Linked DNA regions of Homo sapiens. The protein of the gene in region 2 purifies or fractionates together with the protein of the main gene of each other region. This does not show direct contact. Each region holds a gene or a part of one and is shown on either strand. Other genes may lie near its edges.

Evidence for each region.
Region 1: the proteins of PACSIN3 (region 2) and COBLL1 purify together in Homo sapiens (affinity purification with mass spectrometry; 4 studies listed by BioGRID and IntAct, with this or other methods). This does not show direct contact.
Region 3: the proteins of PACSIN3 (region 2) and MICALL1 purify together in Homo sapiens (affinity purification with mass spectrometry; 3 studies listed by BioGRID and IntAct, with this or other methods). This does not show direct contact.

The regions. Positions count from the first base shown.
Region 1 is NC_000002.12:164,838,824-164,845,836, reverse strand, and holds the start of COBLL1 (cordon-bleu protein-like 1), read left to right. Parts: upstream 1-4,013; 5' UTR 4,014-4,127; intron 4,128-4,404; exon of another isoform or gene 4,405-4,590; coding exon of another isoform or gene 4,591-4,640; coding exon 4,641-4,681; intron 4,682-5,014; exon of another isoform or gene 5,015-5,088; intron 5,089-7,013.
Region 2 is NC_000011.10:47,183,427-47,191,181, reverse strand, and holds the start of PACSIN3 (protein kinase C and casein kinase substrate in neurons protein 3), read left to right. Parts: upstream 1-4,747; 5' UTR 4,748-4,833; intron 4,834-5,334; exon of another isoform or gene 5,335-5,540; intron 5,541-5,806; exon of another isoform or gene 5,807-5,916; intron 5,917-6,447; exon of another isoform or gene 6,448-6,637; intron 6,638-6,684; exon of another isoform or gene 6,685-6,881; intron 6,882-7,755.
Region 3 is NC_000022.11:37,901,556-37,909,296, forward strand, and holds the start of MICALL1 (MICAL-like protein 1), read left to right. Parts: upstream 1-4,741; 5' UTR 4,742-4,867; coding exon 4,868-5,013; intron 5,014-5,275; exon of another isoform or gene 5,276-5,923; intron 5,924-7,741. UniProt on the Homo sapiens protein: Lipid-binding protein with higher affinity for phosphatidic acid, a lipid enriched in recycling endosome membranes. On endosome membranes, acts as a downstream effector of Rab proteins recruiting cytosolic proteins to regulate membrane tubulation.

The sequences.
Region 1 (7,013 bases), on a different chromosome or scaffold from region 2:
TGTTTTCATCAACAAAGTCTTATGCATAAATAACATAACATATTTTCTGAGATTGGGCAGTTTCTATGAAATACAAAGTCTGAAATAAGACTTTTATTAAAACTGAAATGTAACAACTCTGATCTTGTTATATAAAACCACAAACACACACATGTACACAATCTAAGAAGACATAAAATAAACACTTCCTTTAGGTTGTAATGTGCAAAGGTGAAATGCACAGAAAGATATTAACCATCTTTTAAGTGTAATTTTTCAGTTTTAAATAAAGCTTTTCAAGTGGTACTTATAGTGGAATAAAAACATACTTAAAATAAGCATTTAAAAATGTTTTCATTATTCCAAATAGTTTACAAAAATTTTAGACAAACTCCAACCATTATGGCCCACTTTAACATGCCTATCTGCTTTTTATATAAGCACACAGGTATTTATTAAGCATGTAAACCTCCTTTCCATTTATTACTATCCAGGAGGAATATGAAACCTAGATTATTATTCAGAGAGATATATAGCTAAGTGGACCTTCATTTAGCTTCATTCTACCCATTGATTTTGGTACTAACCCCATTAGGTAACCACGTGAAGAATAAGTCTTCTTTCTCTAGTAAGACAAACTCACCTTCCATCTGTTCCATTTAAAATGGCCTACCAGCCCCTTTGAGTTGAAGTCTTTCCCTGAATCAAGTTCCTTTTAGGATTCTTCTGAGGAGGGAAGGCCTGAAGGTTTCCTTCATTCCTTTATTCAGTACACAAATACTGGTGGAGAGTCTCCTGTGTTCTGGGCTATGCTTTCAGGAGACAAAGGATAAGACGTGGTCCTTTAAGAGTAGGCTGGGCACTGTGGCTCACGCCTATAATCCCAGCACTTTGGGAGGCCGAGGCAGGCGGATCACAAGGTCAGGAGTTCAAGACCAGCCTGGCCAACATGGTAAAACCCCATCTCTGCTAAAAATATAAAAAATTAGCCGGGCACGTGGCACATGCCTGTAGTCCCAGCTATTCGGGAGGCTGAGGCAGGAGAATCACTTGATCCTGGGTGGTGGAGGTTACAGTGAGCCAAGATCATGCCACTGCAGTCCAGCCTGGGTGACAGTGAGACTCTGTCTCAAAAAAAAAAAAAAAAGAGAATAAACCCCTCCAACTCTGCATTATGTAAATGAATAACTGAAACAAAGTGTCATGGGTCCTTGCCCTACCTAACAGAACCTACTGGGGGCCAAGAAAGGGAAGGGCTACTTCTATTTCTGCAATGAGGGAAGTATTCCTGAGGGGATAATACCTATGCTTAGGCACTTAAAATGATCGGCTGGGTGGTGAAATGAGGGGGAGATTCCCAAACGGGGAAATTGAGCGCAATCTTGGAAACGTGGGCAATTTTGAAACAGCTCTGCATAACTAGAAAGATTGGAAAACAGCAGTTTTCTCCTGTTATGTGAAAAGATTTATAGCAGCCAGGCATGGTGGCTTATGCCTGTAATTCCAGCACTTTGGGAGGCTGTGGTGGGCAGATCACCTGAGGCCAGGAGTTCGAGACCAGCCTGGCCAACATGGTGAAACCTTGTCTCTACTAAAAATATAAAAATTAGCCAGGCGTGGTGGTGGTCACCTGTAATCCCAGCTACTCGGGAGGCTGAGGCAGGAGAATCACTTGAACCCCAGAGATGGAGGTTGCAGTGAGCCGAGATCGCATCACTGCACTCCAGCCTGGGCAACAGGAACAAGACTCCTTCTCCAAAAAAAAAAAAAAAAAAAAAAAAAAGATTTATAGCAAATCTGTGATTATTATTTTGCTAATCACTGGCTACAGTGAGGATAGCTTAGTACCATTATGTGAAGACCACCAAGCTTGGTGGTGCTCTTAAGTGGTTTTGCCCAACATGAGCTTATTTCTTGCTTATGTGGATTCTGTTGTAGGTCCTGGGACTCTCCAGGGCAGCTGTGCTCTGGGTAATAGTTTAGCATTCCAGTCTTGTGTCACCTTCATTTTAATACATGCTTTCATGATTGCAGTAGCAAAGGAAGGGAACATAGAGACTCAAACACTGGCAGTAATTTCACCAGGAAATAAAGCATTTCATGTCTGTTCACATTTCCACTTATCAAAGTCACAGGGTCATACCTAATTTCCATGGGGTGGAGCATATAGTTCTCCCTAGGACCAGAAGGAGGACAGCAAAAAGTGGTAAGCACTGAAAATGCCTTCAGTGGTTACGAAATGTTATGAATGTTTTATGACTAAGATTAGCCTAATCTTACTGGTATTAGGGTCCATAATATTACTAGTATGTCATAAATTAAGGCTGAAACTAATTAAAGATTTAATCTTGTCTTGTGATTGAAAGTTATGGACTTTCAAGTAGTTTCACTGTTACTCAATATTTGCATCATTGTCTGTGCAAGCAACTGTAAAAGCTTGCACAGCTCTGTATTCAGAAGCATAAATGATTCATGAAATTGTTTAAACAGAGTTATTGTTTAAAGACTAAAACCCAGAGGTATTTAAATAAATTGCTTTACTCTTAGTTAAAATCTCTAAAAGCAACTTTTTCTAATATGGTTCCAGTATTGTAATCCAAATGAGCCATGTGTTTTTTTCTTTTCATATTTAAGATGCACTGAAAGGACATTATGCACTGAAAGAAATAAATACCAATGCCTGCGTGTGGTAGACAAATGGCACATTGCTAGGCATTTAGTTCAGCAATCTTTTTTTGTTGCTGCAATGGATAACCAACTAAAGGAGCATTAATATCAATTTAATTGTAATACCTGCCAAATGTTATTCTATCAGTGGCTAACACAGGTTTATTACTTGATGTTAGTGCTACAACAGAAGTCCCCTGCAGGATGTTCCTTCCTGTAAGATCTCTCCATCAGTTTAATCCAAATATGTTTTTAAAACTCTAATTTTAAATTCATTTCTTAATGTCACGTTGTTTTCTGAAAACACATTTTTGGGCCCATCAGAATGGCGCGCATCTTAAAACAATTGGCGCTTATGAAAAATATAAAATATGTAAATATATTAGGGTGGTGCAAAAGTAATTGCGGTTTTGTCATTACTTTTTAAAAAAAAAAAAAATGGCAAAAACCGCAGTTACTTTTGCACCAACCTAGTACCTGTCTGTCAGGTGTAAAGAATCATCTAAAGGGCATGCACGTGGATACTAAAACGTACAAACAAGCACACAGCTGTGTCTGATTCCTTTACCCTTGTAAAAGTTCCAATAAGTGAATACAATCTATTACTTAATTCTTAGTTTATAGACTGTCATTAGACATACTGTTGTCCAGTTCTCATGTCAGAGCTGTTATAGGCTTTTACAAAAAATGCCTCTGAAGACAGGGCAAGCTTAAACCTGCCACCAATTAGAAAGATCTGTGTCACAGGTGCGCTTTTAAAAGAATGGCAATCTTAAAGGTCAAGTTAAAAACACAAATTTAAAAAAACGATCCTGGACGTCGAGGGTCGGACTCTAGGGGGGGCAAGCTGCAGGCCCCACTCTGCGAGTTTCTGACCGCATTCCGCGGAGGCCCCAATCCTCCCCGCGGATCCTGGCAAGGCAGGTAACCTCCCTTCCCCCGCACCTGTCCGGTTCAGGCGCACCAGCCTTCCCGAAGCGCAGCCTAGCGGTGGGAATGGGAACACCTCGTCTGGGAGCTTTCTTTCGGTTCAGCTTCCCCAGCCGGACCCCAAAGACCCGAAGCCCTGGGGGAAGGAAATTCCAACTTGCTCCCGGCCCACCCCCGCCCCGTTCCTCTCTCCGGCTCGCTGCTTCCCTCGCTCCAATGCCGCCGAGCTGGTCCCCACTTATGTGCGGCCGTGCTGCAGAGGCGGCGGCGAGCTCCCGGACTCCGGGCAGGGAAATGGGGCAGGGTGAGTGAGAGAGCGGGCTCCAGCGAGGCCCCCAGCGCCCAGCCAGCGCCCGCACCCCGCCCGCGGGACAGGGGAGGTGCTGAGTCGGCCCTGCCCGCGCTGGGCTGAGCCTCGCAGGGGTTGCCGCTTCTCCATTCAAGTCCTGGCTTGAGAGCCGAGCGGCAAGAGCGCGGGCCGGGGAAGGGAAGAGTAGGAGAGGAAGCCGCGAGGGAGAACAGGCGAGCTACTGTCTCCTTTGGAAAAGAACGTAGGAGCCTTGGGTGGGAAAAGAGAGATCAGCCCTCCCAACTTCTCTTCGGGAAAAGTTTTCCTAGGGCGTTTTGTTTGTGCAAACTCGGCCGGAGGAGCCTGGGAGTGCGCTGCCGGCGTGGCAGCGGTGCCCGTGCGCCCGGCCCCGCTCCTCCTCCTTTTCCAGCCCCGGCGGCTCCTCTCCCTCCGAGAGGCGCCAAATGGCTACCCAGTAAACCCCACGGGGCGGGGGCTGCAGCGCCACCGCCTCCTCCGCCGTGCTCTGGGCGCCCGCTAGACCTTGTAGAGACGGCGGCGGCGCCCGCGGGCTGGGAGCCGGGGCCCGCAGGTGGAAGCGCACCCGGGAGGCGGGCCGGCCGGGGCTGGAGCGGCTCGGGCGGGCTCTTGACGCTCAGCCAGCTTCGCTCCGGCCTCGGGAAGGCGCGCGTCCCGCCCTGACCCGCCGGCCTCTCCCACCCCAGCAGTGACGCGCCGCCTGGGAGCTGGAGCCCGCGCAGCGCCCCGCAGGGCGATGGACGGCCGAACCCCGCGCCCGCAGGACGCCCCAGCCAGGTAAGCCCAGAGCGCCGCGCCGCCTCTCACCGGGGAGGGCGAGGCCGGCGAGGACAGCGAGGCCTCGGCCGTTTCACCTGGCTGGCAACTCGCTGCCCTGCCGGCGGCCTGACTCACTGACTGTCCTCCACGCGGCCGGGGAGGCTGCTTCCTCCCGGCCTTCTCGGAGGCCGCCCGGGCGGAGGGCTCGGGTCGTTTTTGGTTGCCTTCCTACCGGGGCTGCCCTGGGTTGCTACAGGCCAGCTGAATGCCAGGAATTGGGTGAGGAGTCCGGGAGCAAAAATTGTAACAAAGGGACCCTTGTTTGGGCTCTGGGGGAGCGGTGGACGATACCTGTAAGTGAGCTCCTGGGGAGGGAGGGCAAAAGTTTCCTTGGTCATGGGCTGAGGCCCAGGCAGGTGAGCAATGTCAAGGTGACTGTAGGGAGTGGGCTTTCTGCAGGCGGGTGGAGGGCGACAGGAGGGTGTGCCAGCTGTCAGCCCGCATGACAGTTCCGGGAGCGAGCGGGGTGCGCGCCTCTGATTGGGGGTGTGTGTGCCTGTGGCCAATTGCTGGTTCCAAAACCCAGCGCAAATCAGATTGCAAACAACTCTACTTTTCTTTTTATCCTCACATGTTTGAGAAGAGAGGAAGGGGGCTGTCACATGGTGAGTTAATATTAAATGAGGCATGTCTTCCTGCCAGATATGCTAATAGTTACCTTGTTAAGCGTTTGAGTAAACAGTAATGAGAACAGGTAGTTCTGCAAGAGATGAAGAAAACCTGAAAATAACCTTGGTCTTAGTAAATAGTTCAGGAGTAACCTGGATGCTAGTTGAGTTTCTCAAGTAGGAAACTCGTTTGATGTAGTACAAGATTTTTCCCCCCAGCATAAGTGTTCCTCCAACATAGTTTATTTTCTTAGTTAATCTGAATGCAGAAATGCCCTAATGAGAATACGAGCATTCCAGAAATAGAAACGTTAAGGAAAAATCGACGTTGTCACTAATGAATGAGACTTGTACAGTTTTCCTGATTTAAGAGTGTAGAAGTCATTTTTCCCTGGAACATGACAGGCGTTTCCTTAGAAGCAAGTCACAGCATGTTTATTCATCAGAGACCATGCGAACATTGGCAGCTGTCTAGAGGAAACATGGAAAAGTCTCAAAGCAACATGACTAATCTAAAAGATATTTAGTATAATTTTTACATAGAGGAAACATGTAGTGTATTAATTATTTCATTTTGCTCAAATTAACTTTCTCCTTTCTGCAAATATTACTCCCACTGTTGACTTTCATTTCTTTTCTTTCCCCAGGTTTTTCATTGCTTAAATATTTTCATATATCCTGACATATATTCTCACATTAGGATGAGTAAAGAAATATATCGGTAGAAAGATATTGAGCATACAAGCAAGGTTCCTAAGTGGAGCTGCAAAATTATGTGAATTGACGATGAGACAGCTGTCAGGATACCGAAATGTATTCAGGGATTGCAAAATGAGATAGAATTAAATTGGATTTGGAAATGGATTAGGTTAAGGTACTTTAAAAAACAAAAAAGAAAGAAAAACATACCTGCTTTCACAAAATACACCCATGGGTGTTCAGAAGTCACTGGGGACTTTTAAGTAAAATAGGTGAGGTCAGATGGCTCTGTGTTGAAGAAACAGAAGAACACTTTTTGCTGGCAAGCATAACTGTAGTAAGAACCTTCAGACTTTACTCTTGATATTTTATTTTAATGTAGAGACAAGGTCTTGCTATGTTGCCTAGTTGATCCGAAACCCCAGGCTTCAAGCAATCCTCTCACCTTGGCTTCCCAAAGTGTTGGGTTTACCAGTATGAGCCAGTGCGCCCAGCCACTTTTGAGAATTTAAAGGTTAAACTGATAAGTTCTTTGCTTAAAAAGAAAGTACAAAAGAGCCTTATCTAATTTGTCAAGCATTTGTAAAGGACTTTTGCCGTCCCCTTTTCAAATTTAAGTAGGGAAAATCTGTCAACACCTTATCTAAAATAACACAGTAGTTCTATCATTTTGCCTTACATTATTCTACTCAGAGAAGTTATCATTACCTGAAAAATATCAACATGAAAAAATTACCTCTCTACTTCATTTGTCTTATTTCACTTGTCTAACTTGTCCTTTGGCATATTCCGAATGCCTGTCATATAAGATTTGTTGAATATTTAATATTCAGTATTGCTTCTCTTCTCTCTCAAAAACCCAAATTATAAAAGGTTTAAACTGGGGGAAAAATATCTAGATAAGGGTATTTGGGAAGTGGCAGGCAGAAATCTTAATATGTTATAATTGTTAGGTTTTGGAGATAAATTTCTTGCTATAAAAC
Region 2 (7,755 bases):
GTCAACAATTTTAATAAATTGATTACCAGTTGTTAAAAAAATTTTTTTTTAATTAAAAGTTTATGTTTTCTCTTTTTTTTTTGAGACGGAGTTTCGCTCTTGTTGCCCAGGCTGGAGTGCAATGGAGCAATCCCAGCTCACTACAACCTCCGCCTCCCAGGTTCAAGCAATTCTCCTGCCTCAGCCTCCTGAGTAGCTGGGATTACAGGCATGAGCCACCATGCCCGGCTAATTTTGTATAGTAGAGATGGGGTTTCTCCATGTTGGTCAGGCTGGTCTTGAACTCCCAGCCTCAGGTGATCCACCCAACCTCGGCCTCCCGAAGTGCTGGGATTACAGGCGTGAGCCACTGCACCCGGCAAGTTTATGTTTTCAATAGCCACATTTCAAGTGCTCAACAGTCTCATGCTACTAGTGGCTATCATATTGGCCAGCACAGCTATAGAACATTCCCACCACTGCAGAAAATAATTGGACAGCACTATTTTAGATACAAATACCCACTCGCCCACCCCCCAGTTTTTAATTTTAGTTACATAATTTACACATAGGTACATTCTCATTGTAAATTTTCTAACATTACAAAAATGTCCCTTACCAATTCTAGACCTCTGCCTAAAGATAAACGCCAAAATCAGTATGAAGTATATTTTCTGTGAAGATTTAGTGTGTTTTGCATTTTGCTTTTTTCCCTTGACATCGTCTTGGAGGTCTTCTTATAAGAATACATCTCTTGGCTGGGTGCGGTGGCTCATGTCTGTAATCCCAGCAGTTTGGGAGGCCAAGGCGGGTGGATCATGAGGTCAGGAGTTTGAGCCCAGCCTGACCAACATGGTGAAACCCCGTCTCTACTAAAAATACAAAAATTAGCCAGGCGTGGTGGCACGTGCCTGTAATCCCAGCTACTCAGGAGGCTGAGGCAGGAGAATCGCTTGAACCCGGGAGGTGGAGGTTGCAGTGAGCTGAGATTGCGCCATTACACTCCAGCCTGGGCGACAGAGCAAGACGCCGTCTCGAAAAAAAAAAAAAAAGAATATGTCTCTCTCTACCTTGTTCTTTTTTTTTTTTTTTTTTTTTTTTTGGTTTGTTTTTGTTTGAGATGGAGTTTTGCTCTCGCTTCCCAGGCTGGAGTGCAATGGCGCAATCTCAGCTCACTGCAACCTCCGCCTCCTGGGTTCAAGCGATTCTCCTGTCTCAGCTTCCCAAGTAGCTGGGACTAAAGGCACACGCCACCACACCTGGCTAATTTTTGTATTTTTAGTAGAGAAGGGGTTTCACTTTGTTGGCCAGGCTGGTCTCGAACTCCTGCCTCTAGCTTGTTCTTGAGTTTTTGCAGAGTAATCCACAGCATGAATGAACTTTAGGTTGTTCAACTATTGCCTTCATGATGAACATTTGTTTTCAGTTCTCCCCTGTTGCAAACAGTACTATATGCAAACATCATTGTACCTCTTTCTGCATTTGTACATGTTCGTCCAGGGTAAATACCAAAAAGTAGAATTGCTAGGTCACAAAGTCATATGGTAACACCCCTGGGGCTTGGCACACCCTGAAGCTCCTGCCTAGAATGCCTGTCCACGTGACTAATTCCTACTCATCAAGACCTATCAGTGTCATGTCCTGTGAAAGGCCGTCCCTTCTGCCTGTTTTCTCTCAATACTTCCTATCTGCCTTGCATCATTACGGTACACTTGGACTCTGCCTTATTTAACTTTGTACTCCCAACATTCCTAGCATAGCCTTAGCATGGAGTAAAAACTCAAGTGTTTTCTTGGCTGGGTGAATGAATGCATAAATAAACAAATGAAGGCACAGTGGTTAGGATATTCCAGAAACTCAAGGTGAGTCTGTGAGTGGCGTGAAATCTGGCTATGGACCAATCTGCCCATTGGTACCCTGAGCCAAATGCCTTGCTAGATTTGTCTTTTTTTCTTTTTGAGAGAAAGTTTCCTTCGACCAGGCTGGAGAGCAGTGGCGCAATCTCAGCTACCTAAGCCTCCCGGGTTCAAGCAATTCTCCTGTCTCAGCCTCCCAAGTAGCTGGGACTACAGGCGTCCACGACCACGCCTGCTAGTTTTTTTGTGTTTTTAGTAGAGATGGGGTTTCATTATTGGCCAGGCTGGTCTTGAACTCCTGACCTCAGGTGATCCACCTGCCTCAGCCTCACAAAGTGCTGGCATTACAGGCGTGAGCCACTGTGCCCAGCCTTAGATTTCTGTCATTTTTTTTCTTTTTCTTTTTGAGATGGAGTTTTGTTCTTGTCGCCCAGGCTGGAGTGCAATGGCACGATCTCAGCTCACTGCAACCTCCACCTCCCAGGTTCAAGCGATTCTCCTGCCTCAGCCTCCTAAGTAGCTGGGATTACAGGCACCCGCCACCATGCCCAGCTAATTTTTGTATTTTTAGTAGAGATGGGGTTTCACCATGTTGGCCAGGCTGGTCTCAAACTCCTGACCTCAGATGATCCACCCGCCTCGGCCTCCCAAAATGCTGGGATTACAGGCGTGGGCCACCGCGCCCGACCAGATTTCTGTCTTTATGCAGCCCTCTGTCCACTGACATCTCATCTTGAACTCTGGGTTGAGGACAGCACTGATGGAGCAGTGTGGATGTTAAGGGCTCTGGCCATAGAGCGCAGAATGGGAGCCCTGGGGGTAGCATTAGCTTGGAGCTGGCTTTCCAAAGGCATGTCTGTCTACTTTCAGCTTAGAAGCAGCCCCCTATGCTCTGGGTTTTATTTTGTTGTTTTTTTTCCCCTACAGTACCTCAGGGGCAATTAAGATCAGCTGCAACATTTCTGCTTTCTGCTCCCAGACTTGAGCCCAAGGGAAGCCAGATGTTTTCCAGTCCACATCCCCTTCTCTTTGTGGTCTGATGAACAGCCCTGTTTTCTGAGTCTCTCTATGGCCTGGCTTTCCCAGATCCCACAGCCTGGCTGCCAACTTTATTTTTAATGAGGTTTTAATAGGTGGCTCCTGTAATTAATTTCATTCTTGTGTTTTCACACTTCGGTCTAGGTGCCTAAAGGCCTTCAGGCGCTAGGAGGGATGTTAACTGATTTTAAAGAATACAAAACCCTGTGGCTGTGATTTGCCATTTTCCCAGCTCCTCTGATCTGCAGTTGTTTTTTACAATCATTAATTAGCTGGGGCTCATGGCTCAGCGGAAGGTCAGCTGGTCACCTGTCATGTTTTATAGAGGTAGAAATAGAGATAAGGGACTTGTCCAAGCCCTAAGAGAGAGTGGGTGTTGAAATTGGTCTCAGAAACCACATCCCAGGTTTCAGATTCACTACTCAGCTATGATTTGCCAAACACGGCCAGAATCCTCAGGCCAAAGGTGGCGCGCCTTGGGTGCCCCACAGGTGTCTTGGGGAGGCAGTTTTACCCTTCCATTAGCACTGCCCAGCAAGTGAGCCCTCGGCAGGCAAAATTACCCCCATTCATTTTCTCCAGGTCCCTTTCCCGTTTTGTGAGCGGATTCATCTGCGTAAAGAACGCGTCAGTGATTCCTCCTGGATTTAGAAACAACATAATTTTGCTATTTTTAAAGCTGCCGTTTAAAACTCCGCGCGCACGCACTCACACTCTTCAGGGAGCTGAGGGTGGGAGGAAAAGTACGAGCTTCAGAGGGCGCAGCCAGGCGCCTCAGCTTCCCAGGGCTCAGAGCCGCGTCCCTGGGGGCGCACTCCTCTGAGAGCGCCGGGGCTCTCCGACCCGCTGCGATTCTGCGCGCCCGGGACCTTCTGCGTCCGGGACCTTCTGCGCCCGGGCGTTCGACCCCGTTGGTCCGCGCTCCCCCTGGTCTTCAAGGCTCAGGGCACCGCCGCTGGGTCACCGGGCCCAGGAGAGAGTGGGAGGGGCGGAGAGGCCGAGCAGGTGGCGATTAGGTCAGCTTCGGAACATTCTTGGACCGCTCCAGTGGATATAAATAACAGACGGAGCCGCTCTGCAAAATCTCACCCCCGGGGGAAAGCGGGGAGAGGGAAGTAGGGAGAGAGGAGGGAGAAGGGATTTATTTAGCGTGGGGTGGCATCGTGGCGATATGGAAAAATGTACCAGACTGATAAAGGGGGTGGAGGGGCGAAGGGTAAGAATGAATCGTGGTACAAAATCTGGAAATAAGAACTCGGAGCGGGAGGAGCTTAGGCCTTTTTGTCCCACCCCCACCGCGTGTTCGTCTCAGGCCTTAGAAGGCGCCCCAGATTAGCAGGGCAGCTGTGGAACGGTAGGGCACGGTTTTGGAGTCCCAGCCCTGCCTGACTAGAGGGAAATCTTGGGCAAGCCTCTGAAAAGCCCCCGAGCCTCAGTTTTTGCATCTGTACAGTGGGAATCCTAATGCTTACAAGGGGTGGTTGTGAGCCTCGCCTGAGCCAATTTCTAAACAAGCTGTGCAGCTAAAAATGTAAGGCAGTGTAATTCCCCCGGCCCCTCTCCAAGGCTGCCCGTGCCGGCCCGGTCCCTTCTTGCTCCCTCGGGTCTCCCAGGCTCTGCAACGGTCCGGGAGAGGCAAAGCCGAAATCTGGCTCCCTGCGGCACCGGGGCGCAACCCTGGGGAGCCCGCCCAGGCACTCCGCACACGGGCGAAGCAGAGAAACCTCGACCCGCGCCACAAGAGCCGCTGGTCGCCGCGATGCCTGCAGCCCCGCTGCCCCGCCGCGTGGGGTTGAGGCAGCGGCGGCCAGGAGAGGGGCGGGGCCGGGGGCCGGGGGCCGGGCTTCCCGGGGGAGGGCCCGGCGCGCTCCGGGAGGCCGCGGCGCGGGCCCAGGAGCGGCAGGACTCGGGCCGGAGCGTGGCCGGACCCCCACCCGCCGAGGGGCCCAGGGAGGACGCGGTGAGTGCCCTGGAGGGGACGCGCGGGTAGGCGGCGGCGGGTGCGGTGGCTCGAGCCCGCCCTCTCCTGCTCCGGCTTCTGAAGTTTGCAATGGAGCCGACTCCCGCCCAGGGAGCCCCCGGCCACCCCGCTCTGCGTGCCGACGGGAAGGGCCGTAGCCGCGCCGAGGGGCCGTCCCATCTGCGGTGCCGCGGGCTTCGCAATTCCGCAGGCCGCCCGGGGGAGGCGGCGCCGGCGCTGGAGGGCTGAGCCGTCTTCAGGGGCCCCTCGAGGGCCCCCGTCCGCTCGCCTCGCGCCCGCCCCGAGGCCCCAGAGGGTCCTCGCTCCCTGGCGATCCCTCGCCCTATGCAGCGAGCCCCGATTCCTGGGTCCGCTGCCCGGGGCCACCATCTGGAGCCCACGGCAAGGCCGGCCCAGGCAGGGGGCGTCCCCTCCCCTTGGCGGTGATCAGTGGCCCCACCCCCGCCAAGACCAAGTTCAACAAGTTTGGCCAAGAAGTCTAGAGCTTCGGTGGCTAGGCCTGGCCCTGCCGCTCCGCGTGGCTCCACGGGCTCCGAGTTATGCAGCTCCGGGCGGCAAGGGGTCCTGTCGAGGGGCGCGGTCCATAAGGGTTGAGGCCAGAGGCGCGTAGCCTCTGGGCGCCGAGCTCTGGAGTGGAGGCTGGGGTTCGGAGTGCGTCATCTGGAAGCAGGCACCCCGGCCGGCAGGTCGGGTTTCCAAAAGTGCCCCTTTGTTATGCCCCTCCCTGGCCCTGCCTCCTCCCGCTTTGGCTGCGCCACCCCCTCCCCCAGCCTCCTGATCTCCTGGCTGGCTCTGGCTTCTGGTTCCAGCCCCTCTAACCTCGCTGTCCCTCTTCGGACCAGCCTACTGACGCCCCCTCCCCTCCCCCCCGCTCTGTCCTCAAATCCTAGAGCTGCGGGCGCACCGGGAGGGGCTGCCCGGGAAAGAAGCCCTTGGGCGCAGCCTGTGACTCAGGTTCCAGGGATGGGCCAGGCAGAATGGCTGAGCTCCCTCCCAGGGGCAAGCCCCCAGCTTCTGGAAGAGGTTGGGGCTGGTCTGGGGCCGGGTACCTTCAGGCCTCAGGTAGGGAGACTGGGTCTTCCCTGAACCAGGGACTTCCTACCTTGGCCCGTGCAGCTGCAAGGAGACCCTGCCAAGCCCAGGAAGACCTCTCGGAGCCGAACGTGCTGGCTCCCGGGGCTGGGAAGATTGCATTACCTGCTTTCTGAGCTCTTGCCTGCGGTGGGGACTGATTTGGGTCTCTGCTGAGCTCAGGAGGCACAGGGTGCCAACCTGCTCAATGGGGGCCAAGGTGCAAGCCCTCCTTGCTTGCTTGCTGAGAGGTCAGGCTGGGGCTGTGGGGCCTGGCTGCACCCGGGGCTTGGGCCTGTGTTTGCTCTGGGAGGCCGGAGGGAGCTGTGCCAGCCCGGTACACACAGCTTGCTCTGTTCTGGGGCCAGAGAGAGGGAAGGGGTGGGGGGCAGCTCTCTGGGGAGCAGGGAACTCGGAGGCTGGAACAGGCAAGGGGCCCCAGGCTCCTGAGGCTGGACTGGGGCGGCTCCAGAGCCCTGTGATTCATGGCAGCAGCTCTCTTTCTCTCCATCGCCCTGTCAGGTCCTTTCTGGGCAGACAGGACACACTGCAGAGGGAACCAAGTGACGAGCTTGTGAGGCCCCTGGTGGGCACCTCCATTGCCTGGGTCTCCGCGGAGCCCCTAGCTCTGTCTCCTGTTAGCAGAGGGGGAAGCCCACTTGGACCAAGCATTCCCACAGCTGCTGGAGCGGGCGCGTTTCCTGCGCTCCAGGTGGACATCGCTTCTTTTCTCACTTAACTAATTATTGCTGATTCCAGCGCGTGGGGACACACAAATCAGAATCCTGGAAGCCTCTGTCGGTGACTGAAGATAGACACTGTCCTGTCAGCCACAACTCCATGGGTTATACACCCCGGCTGAAGGGTCACCCGGGGCTACAGGAGCAAGGACAGAGAAACAGGGGAAGTGACTGAGGAGAAGATGCCTTAATTGGAGGTTTGAAGGAGAAGCAGAGGTGCATGAGTTTGGAGGAAGCGCTGTGACAGCGCCCTGCTTTGGGGACAAAGGGCGCACACTGTCCTCCTGGGTCTGGCTGTGTCCCTTGGGCCTGCTCAGAGAGGAAGCGATTTCCTTCTAGGGTCTGTGAGTCAGTCAGTGCTGGGGACAGCTGAGACCCTGCCCAGAGGCAGGAGGGGAGCAGCCACATGCCACTGTGTCCTTGAGTCCCTGGGGCCATGGCTCTGGGGTTGGAATTGGCTTGCCGTCCTCTGCGATTCTAGGGAACTTTTTTTTTTTTTTTTGAGACAGTCTCACTCTGTTGCCCAGGCGGTGGTATAATCTCTGCTCACCGCAACCTCCTCCGCCTCCTAGGTTCAAGTGATTCTCATGCCTCAGCCTCCTAAGTAGCTGGGACTACAGGTTCCCGCCACCACGCCTGGCTAATTTTTATATTTTTAGTAGAGACGAGGTTCCTCCATGTTGGCCAAGCTGGTCTGGAACTCCTGACCTCAGGTGATCCACCCACCTCAGTCTCCCAAAGTGCTGAGATTACAGGCGTGAGCCACCACACCCAGCCTGGGAGACATTCTTATAGTTGGCCATCGCTTCTCACTTCCCCATGCTGCCCTGGACGCCAGGCCTTTGGAGGGCAGGCCCGGGTTGTGTGTTCCCCACGGAGCCTTGCGGGCCCTCAGTGGATGTGTGGAGTGAGATGAGTATCTTCCGTGACTGCAGGGCCCCTCGTATTTCTGGTGCGTTGCTTGGTTTGAGTTTCACACCAGCCCTGGCATGGCAGCTGAGCACACAGAGGAGTTCCATCTTAGAGGGAGCTGGGGCCTCCTTAGGAGGAGACAGTTACATACACTTGTTCGGGCTTCCTGGCCAACACA
Region 3 (7,741 bases), on a different chromosome or scaffold from region 2:
ATTCAGCCAGATGCAGGGGCTTGTGCATATAACTTCAGCATTTTGCGAGGCCAAAGCAGGTGGATTGCTTGAGTCCAGGAGTTCAAGATCAGCCTGGGCAACATAGTGAGACTCCCGTCTCTACAAAAAATAAACAAAATTATCTGGGTGTGGTGGTGCATGCCTGTTAGTGCCAACTGCTCGGGAAGCTGAGGTGGGAGGATCGCTTGACTCCAGGAGGTGGAGGCTGCAGTGAGCCGTGATTGTGCCAGTGCACCCAGCCTGGGAGACAAAGTGAAACCCTGTCTCAAAAAAAGAGAGAAAGGATTCAAACTCTACCTATACTGACAGCTCTCACCTGTTTGCATTCAGCTTGCTTCCCTGGGAGTTAGGTGTTCTTCAGCCTAAATGATGTTACCATCTCAAAGAGGTGTTCCCTGGCTATGCTATCTGTCCCCATCATTCTCTGTCACAGCACCAGTCACCACCTGAGGTTCTCCTTGTTTTTGTTTTGTTTTGTTTTGAGACAGGGTCTCACTCTGTTGCCCAGACTGGAGGACAATGGCACGATCTTGGCTCACTGCAACCTCCGCCTCCCCAGGCTCAAGTGATTCTCCTGTCTCAGCCTCCCGAGTAGCTGGAATTACAGGCACACACCACACCCAGCTAATTTTTGTATTTTTAGTAGAGATGGGGTTTCACCATGTTGACCAGGCTGGTTTCAAACTACTGACCTCAAATGATCCACCCGCCTCAGCCTCCCAAAGTGCTGGGATTACAGGCGTGAGCCACTGCGCCCAGCCTGTTTTTTGTTTTTTGTGTTTTTTGAGACAGAGTCTCACTTTGTCGCCCAGACTGGAGGGCAGTGGCGCAGTGTCAGTTCACTGCAACCTCTCCTCCCTGGTGCAAGCAATTCTCCTGCCTCAGCCTCCTGAGTAGCTGGGATTACAGGTGTGTGCCACCACACCTGGCTAATTTTTGTATTTTTAGTAAAGACGGATTTTCACCATGTGGGCCAGGCTGGTCTTGAATTCCTGACCTCAAGTGATCCACCTGCTTCAGCCTCCCGAAGTGCTGGGATTACAGGGTGTGCCACTGTGCCCGGCCTCCTTGTTGTTTACTTGTTTACAGCTCCTGGCCCCCAACAGGTGCTCAGTAAATATTGTTGAATCCATGCTTGACTATAAATGTGTGAACAAGGTGTGGAAGGCTGTTTCACACCGACAACTGCAGCTACTTCTTAGGAGGGGACTAGAGTTGAAGGAGACAGTCAAACTGGAACTTTAGATTTATTTTTAAATTTTTGATAAGAATGATGTATTCAGGCTGGGCATGGTGGCTCATGCCTGTAATCCCAGCACTTTGGGAGGCTGAGGTGGGCACATCACTTAAACTCAGGAGTTTGAGATCAGCCTGGCCAACATGGCGAAACTGTGTCTCTACTAAAAATACAAAAATTAGCTGAGCTTGGTGGCCCATGCCTATAATCCCAGCTACTAGGGAGGCTGAGGCAGGAGAATCACTTGAACCTGGGAGATGAAAGTTGCAGTGAACCGAGATCGTGCCACTGCACTCCAGCCTGGGCGAGAGAGACTCGTCTCAAAAAAAGACAGGGTCTCCCTATATTGCCCAGGCTGGTTTAGTCTTGAACTCCTGGCCTTGGCTCCCAAAGTGTTGGGATTACAGGCATGAGCCACCGTGCCTGGCCCCATTTCTTAATTGATAGTTAAAAATAAAACAAAACAGCACTGAATTAAGGGCCCAAGTCTCTCAATTCTAATCCCGAAATTATAGCATGATTTTGGGCAAGTGCCCTACTCACCTATCTCTGTGGCTTCTGATCTCACCTGTAAACACACAGACCCACCTTCCACCTGAACCCTGGATTTACAGTCTGCACAGCATTTTCTCATCCATTATCTCACCTTGTTACCCACAACCCTGGGATTCAGGCAAAGCAAGTATTATCATCCTCATTTTATAGGGTAAGAAATTGGGGTTCATGAGGGTGAGTTGTCTGGCCTGCGGTCACACACTGTGGTCGTACAGGTCCTTACTTCGAAACATTGTGAGCTGACTCAGATAATGAGTTTATAAAGCCCACAAATGGCTAATGGGGGTGACCAGGCTGTGCTGTGTAAGCTATTAGTATGGCAACAGGATCAGATATGGAGCTGTCTTCAGGGACCTAAAGGGAGCCCTTTAGGCTAGTGAGGACAGGGCTATAATCCCTCCTGGTTTCTTTTGTTTGTTTTTGGTTTTTTGTTTTTTAAATGGAATCTCACTCTGTTGCCCAGGCTGGAGTGCAGTGGTGCGATCTCAGCTCACTGCGTCCTCCACCTCCCGGGTTCAAGCCATTCTCCTGCTGGGATTACAGGTGTGTGCCACCACGCCCAGCTAATTTTTTGTATTTTTAGTAGAGATGAGGTTTCACCGTGTTAGCCAGGCTGGTCTCGATCTCCTGACCTCGTGATCTGCCTGCCTTGGCCTCCCAAAGTGCTGGGATTACAGGCGTGAGCCAAAAAAACCCACCATCTTTGAGATGGAGTCTCGCTGTGTCCCCCAGGTTGGAGTACAGTGGCGTGATCTTGGCTCACTGCAACCTCCGCCTCCCAGGTTCAAGCGATTGTCCTGCCTCAGCCTCTCGAGTAGCTGGGACTATAGGCACGTGCCACCACGCCTGGCTAATTTTTTTATTTTTAGTAGACACGGGCTTTCACCATCTTAGCCAGGCTGGTCTTGAACTCCTGACCTCATGATCCGCCCACCTTGGCCTCCCAAAGTGCTGGGATTACAGTGAGCCACCGCGCCTGGCCCAATTTTTTGTATTTTTAGTACAGACGGGGTTTCACTATGTTGGCCAGGCTGTTCTCAAGCTCTTGACCTCAGGTGATCCACCTGCCTCGGCCTCCCAAAATGCTGGGATTACAGGTATGAGCCATGGTGCCCAACCCCGCCCCCCTTAGGTTTTAATGAGAGTCCTGGGTGGTCTTTGAAGGCCTAGGTGGATGCTGGTGTCAGGATCCTGAACCCAAGTCCCTGATTTCATAAAAAGCATCCGGAATCCTGCTTTCCTGCCACTGTTATCCCACAGGGGACAGGGCAGGAGTTGGCAGCTCAGGGCTGGTGAGAAGTCCAGAGGGCTAGCCAGGCACTCTGGCCATGCTCTTCCTAGGTGGCCTGAGAGTCCATATACTGAGCCAAGATGGCGGCCTTCCAGTTGCAGGAGTGTTAGGCCAGCCCAGATTGGCAAGCTGGGTTCTCCAGGCCCTGGGCCAGTATTCTGGACTGGGACTCAGTGGACTTTGAAGAGGTAGAATTCCCTAAGTCGGCCTCTCTCCTTGATAATTTACCCAGAATGGCCCAGATGACAATCTGGGTACAAAATATTTCAGTCCATTTCATCATGTTTACCAAGTACCAGGAGTCAATAGAATTTATGAGTGATAACTAAAGGGTAAGGCACTTTACATCTTAATCCTCTCAGCCACCTTGTAAAGCAGGTATTATCTCCATTTTTAAGTCGTGGAAACTGAGGTCCAGGGAGGCACAAGATCACATGACTAAGGGAGTGGGGAAAGCCAGGATTGGAGATTGGGTTAATAGGGCTCCAAAATGCCTGATCTTTCCACTCCCCTGAGTGCTCAGGGGTGATGAAGATGACTAAGACCCTGTTCCTTCCCTTGGGAGGGAGCGAAATACCCACTCCAGCTAACTATTGCATGGGTCAGGGTGACATCACCACCTCTGCAGCAGATGGAGGCTGATTCATCTGTGGGAGAGTCAGGAGGGGCCTCTGCGGAAGGGTCGGCTGGCTGGAAGGGTTGGCTGGCTGGAAGGGTCGGTTGGCTGGCGGGGGTTTTGAAGACGGCAAAGATAGAGAATGAGCCTTGGGGAGGTTCCAGGGCCAGATACAAACTGCCTGTATGCCTCCCAGGCAGGGGCCTCCTTGGCCTAGGTCCTTCCCATAGGAACTCAAACCACCACCACACTAACCATGGCTGAGGGGACCCGGCAGGCCGCAGTGGGGAGGGACGAGATCCCTGAGCTTACACAGGGGCTGAGGGGAGCTCAGTGAATCACCTAGGGGACACCTGGACCAAAGGTGGCGGAGGGGCGCATGGGTCTCCCTGCCAAGCTATGGGGGAGGGGATGGTGGACATGACAACTTCCAGCTCAGCGGTGCTTTAGGGTGGGGAGCCGGGATGAGGGAAGCTGGTGGCTATCCGGGGGGGGGTGCTCTGAGGTCTGCAGGGGAACTGCCTCCCCAAAGTTTCAAGCTAGGGGTGGAAGGGGGGATTTGCGGTCATTAGGAGCGGGAAGGAGGCCGGATGGGAGCACGAGGTGTCCCGCCTCCAAAGGGTGGAGGGCTCCCGGTGGGTGGCGCGGCGGCGGCCGCGGCGGTGAAGTCATCGTGGGGAGTGGTCCGCTTGCGGCGGGTGCGGGGGCTTCGCGGGCACCCAGTGGAGCAGCGGGAGCCCGGCGCCGTCGAGGGGCGGGCGATGGGGCGCCGGCCCGTCTTGGTAGGGGTGGGCTCCGCACTGGAGGCGGAGCTGCTGCTGGGTGGGGCGCGCCTCCGGCGCGGACGGAGGCGGCGGGACGCCCGCTCCCACGACCGGCCCACAATGAGGCGAGCGGGCAGCGCGGAGTAGGCGGCGGCCGGCCGGGCCGGGCCACGCGGCGGCGCTGCTCGGGCAGGTTAGGGCAGGGCCGCGGGGCGCCCGAGCGAGGACACCGCGGCCCCGCCTCCGCCCCTCCCCTCGCCTGCCGGTCGGCGCCCGAGCTCGGAGCCGCAGCCGCAGCCGGAAACCGGGCCCGCGCGGCGGCCGCCGTCCCGGCCAAGCCGGGGCCCCGAAGCCAGAGCCGGAGCCGGGCGGGCCGCGGGGTCATGGCTGGGCCGCGGGGCGCGCTGCTGGCCTGGTGCCGCCGCCAGTGCGAGGGCTACCGCGGCGTGGAGATCCGCGACCTGAGCAGCTCCTTCCGGGACGGCCTGGCCTTCTGCGCCATCCTGCACCGGCACCGGCCCGACCTGCTGTGAGTGCGGGGCCCCGGGCGAGCGGGCGGCGCGGGGCGGGCTGGGGCCGCGACCGCCGCCCCCCCTCAGTAACACGAAGCCCGGGCGGTGACAGGCGCCGCCCCCGGACACGGAGACGCCGACCCCCCCGACGGCCCCGGACGCCGGGCGGGTCCCTGAGACCCCGGCCCAGGGCGCCCCTCCCCCGCCCGGCCGCCCTGACCCCGCCCGTGGGATCCCGAACTCTCCCCCGAGGCTGGTCCCTCCGCGGGGACACTGGCCCCGCCCACAAAGCGCTGATTTCCGCCGAGGATCGCTGAACCCCTAAGCCCTTGACCTCTTTGAAGGGGTGTTGAGCCCTCTTTGGGGGCCCTGGGCCTCTCCTACCCTAAACTCTTCTCCACGGGCTCGCCGGGCCTCCCCTCTCCCCCGAGGCTTCCCACTCGGGGTGGCCCCTTGCTCCGGGTGTGCAGGTGAACCCCCACTTCTCTGACCCCCAAATAGGAGCTTGTCTCCGGACAGTAGCACAGTTCCCGGCACAGAGGAGACCTCGGCTAACAGGTGTTGGATGAATGGATGTACAGACCCTGTGCTTTCCCCACGCCCCCCAACTTAGGACGCAGCCCTGCCTCCCGGGTGTGTGCTCGATGGCCCTGCAGCCCTCCTCAGTGGGGCACGCAGGTGGGGCGCGCAAGAGGAGTCACAGGCCGGCAATGTTGGGAAGACTCCTAGGATCCGATTGATAGACACCAACCGGGTGCTGCAGGTTGTGAAATGGCCCCTTCCTGCCCAGAGCTGCCCAATGAGGTTCTCATGGGAAAATGCATTCAGACTCCCCGGAACAGTTGACTTGGAGCCTCTGTCTTTGCTCTCTCTGCCTTGAGCCCTGGAACCTCTCCTCCTTTCGTCCCTTCATTCCTAAAACACTGGGTGAGTTTATCTGGTGCCATTCCTTGCACTTCAGGTCTCACCTGTGAATCAGGGAGGAGAGTTCTGGTCCCTACCCCTTTCGCATGCAGCCCTCTTGCCAGGGCTCCCCCAGCCTGGCAGATGGAGGCTTTCTGTGCCTGTTCCACCTCCAGATTTGCACTGTCCGAGGGCAGCATGTGGGAAGGCTTCTAAGGGATTGCCTCAGGATTCCATGATGCAGGTGCACCTGGTTTACCTGTATGTACCCTGCAGTACCGTGTCTGTGGGTGGTGGCTTGGGCCCTGGAGGAGAGGGTTTTGGGGCTGTGGATACAGAAGGGAACAAGATGAGGTGGTCATGTAGGTGGGCCCCTGCCCGCTGTGGGGCATGTGACACCCATACTAATGGAAGCACAAGGTTGATGCCTGGTTGCCCAGGAGCAGGGGGTAGAAGGATGGAGGAAAAGGGCACCAGGGTTAGACCTGGGCATTGGAAGGGAGGGCCCAAGGGGTCTTCTGTTTTGTTTGAGGGGCAGGAGTGAGGCAGGAAGCAGGGACAAACCCAGTGTGGGAGGGGACTTGGGTGTGAAGTGAAGCCATTTGGTGGGCCTGAGCCTGGTGGCATCAAAGTAAATAAAGGCCGCCTGGTTTGTGTTTAGCTTCTCCATGTCTTAGGCGCATGGCCTTGGGTCCTCATGGGCTCTCTCCAGGCATCAGTGTCCTCATCTGTGAGGTGGGATTGATAATGTGACACAGCTCACAGAAATGTGAGGATTGCATGAGATAACAAGCATTCATTTAACATTAGTTACTGTGAGTAACTAATGTTACTTTTTTTTTTTTTAATGTTTTTTATTTTTTTGAGATGGGGTCTCACTCTGTCACCCAGGCTGGAGTGCAGTGGCACAGTCATGGCTCACTGCAGCCCCCACCTCCCGGGCTCAAGCAATCCTCCCACCTCAACCTCCCTAGTAGCTGGGACCACAGGCACACGCCACCACGCCTGTCTAATTTGTTTGTATTTGTAGAGATGGGTTTTCACCATGTTGCCCAGGCTGGTCTTGAACTCTTGAGCTCAAGTAATCTGCCTACCTCAGCCTCCCAAAATGCTGGGATTACAGGCATGAGCCACCATGCCTGGCCCAATAACAATGTTTGATTTCTTCATTTATTCAACCAGTATTTGTAGAGTCATATTGCTCTGTGCTGGACACTGTACCTGGTAATGGAAGTACCAATCGACAAAACAGGCAACCCTACACGCTCTCCCACACCTGTAGGGGAAACGTGTATAAACGATGATGGCAATTCCATGTACCCTATCAGAGGGCTGGGGGTGGGAGACCTCCTAGGGAGAATATAGTCTTCAAGGAGATGGCAGGAGCCAGGTGAGGGCTGCTGGGTGGACGTTCTGGCATGGGACCCCATCTGAGCAAAGGCAAGGGGCGGGAGGTGTGTGCAAAGCTGGAGGCTGTGTAGCTGAGTGGGGAGCACAAGGTAGCGAGTTGGGAGATGCAGTTGGGACAGATGGCTGACAGCTGCTTTTGCTGGCTAAGGAGCATGGATAGGGGCCTCAGGGAACCATGCAGGGTTTTTTTTGTTTTTGTTTTTGTTTTTTTGAGATGGAGGCCTGTCACCCAGGCTGGAGTGCAGTGGCGTGATCTCGGCTCACCACAACCTCTGCCTCCCGGATTCAAGCGATTCTCCTGCCTCAGCCTCCCAAGTAGCTGGGATTACAGGCACGCACCACCATGCCTGGCTAATTTTTGTAGTTTTTAGTAGAGATGGGGTTTCACCATGTTGGCCAGGCTGGTCTCGAACTCCTGACCTCAGGTGATCC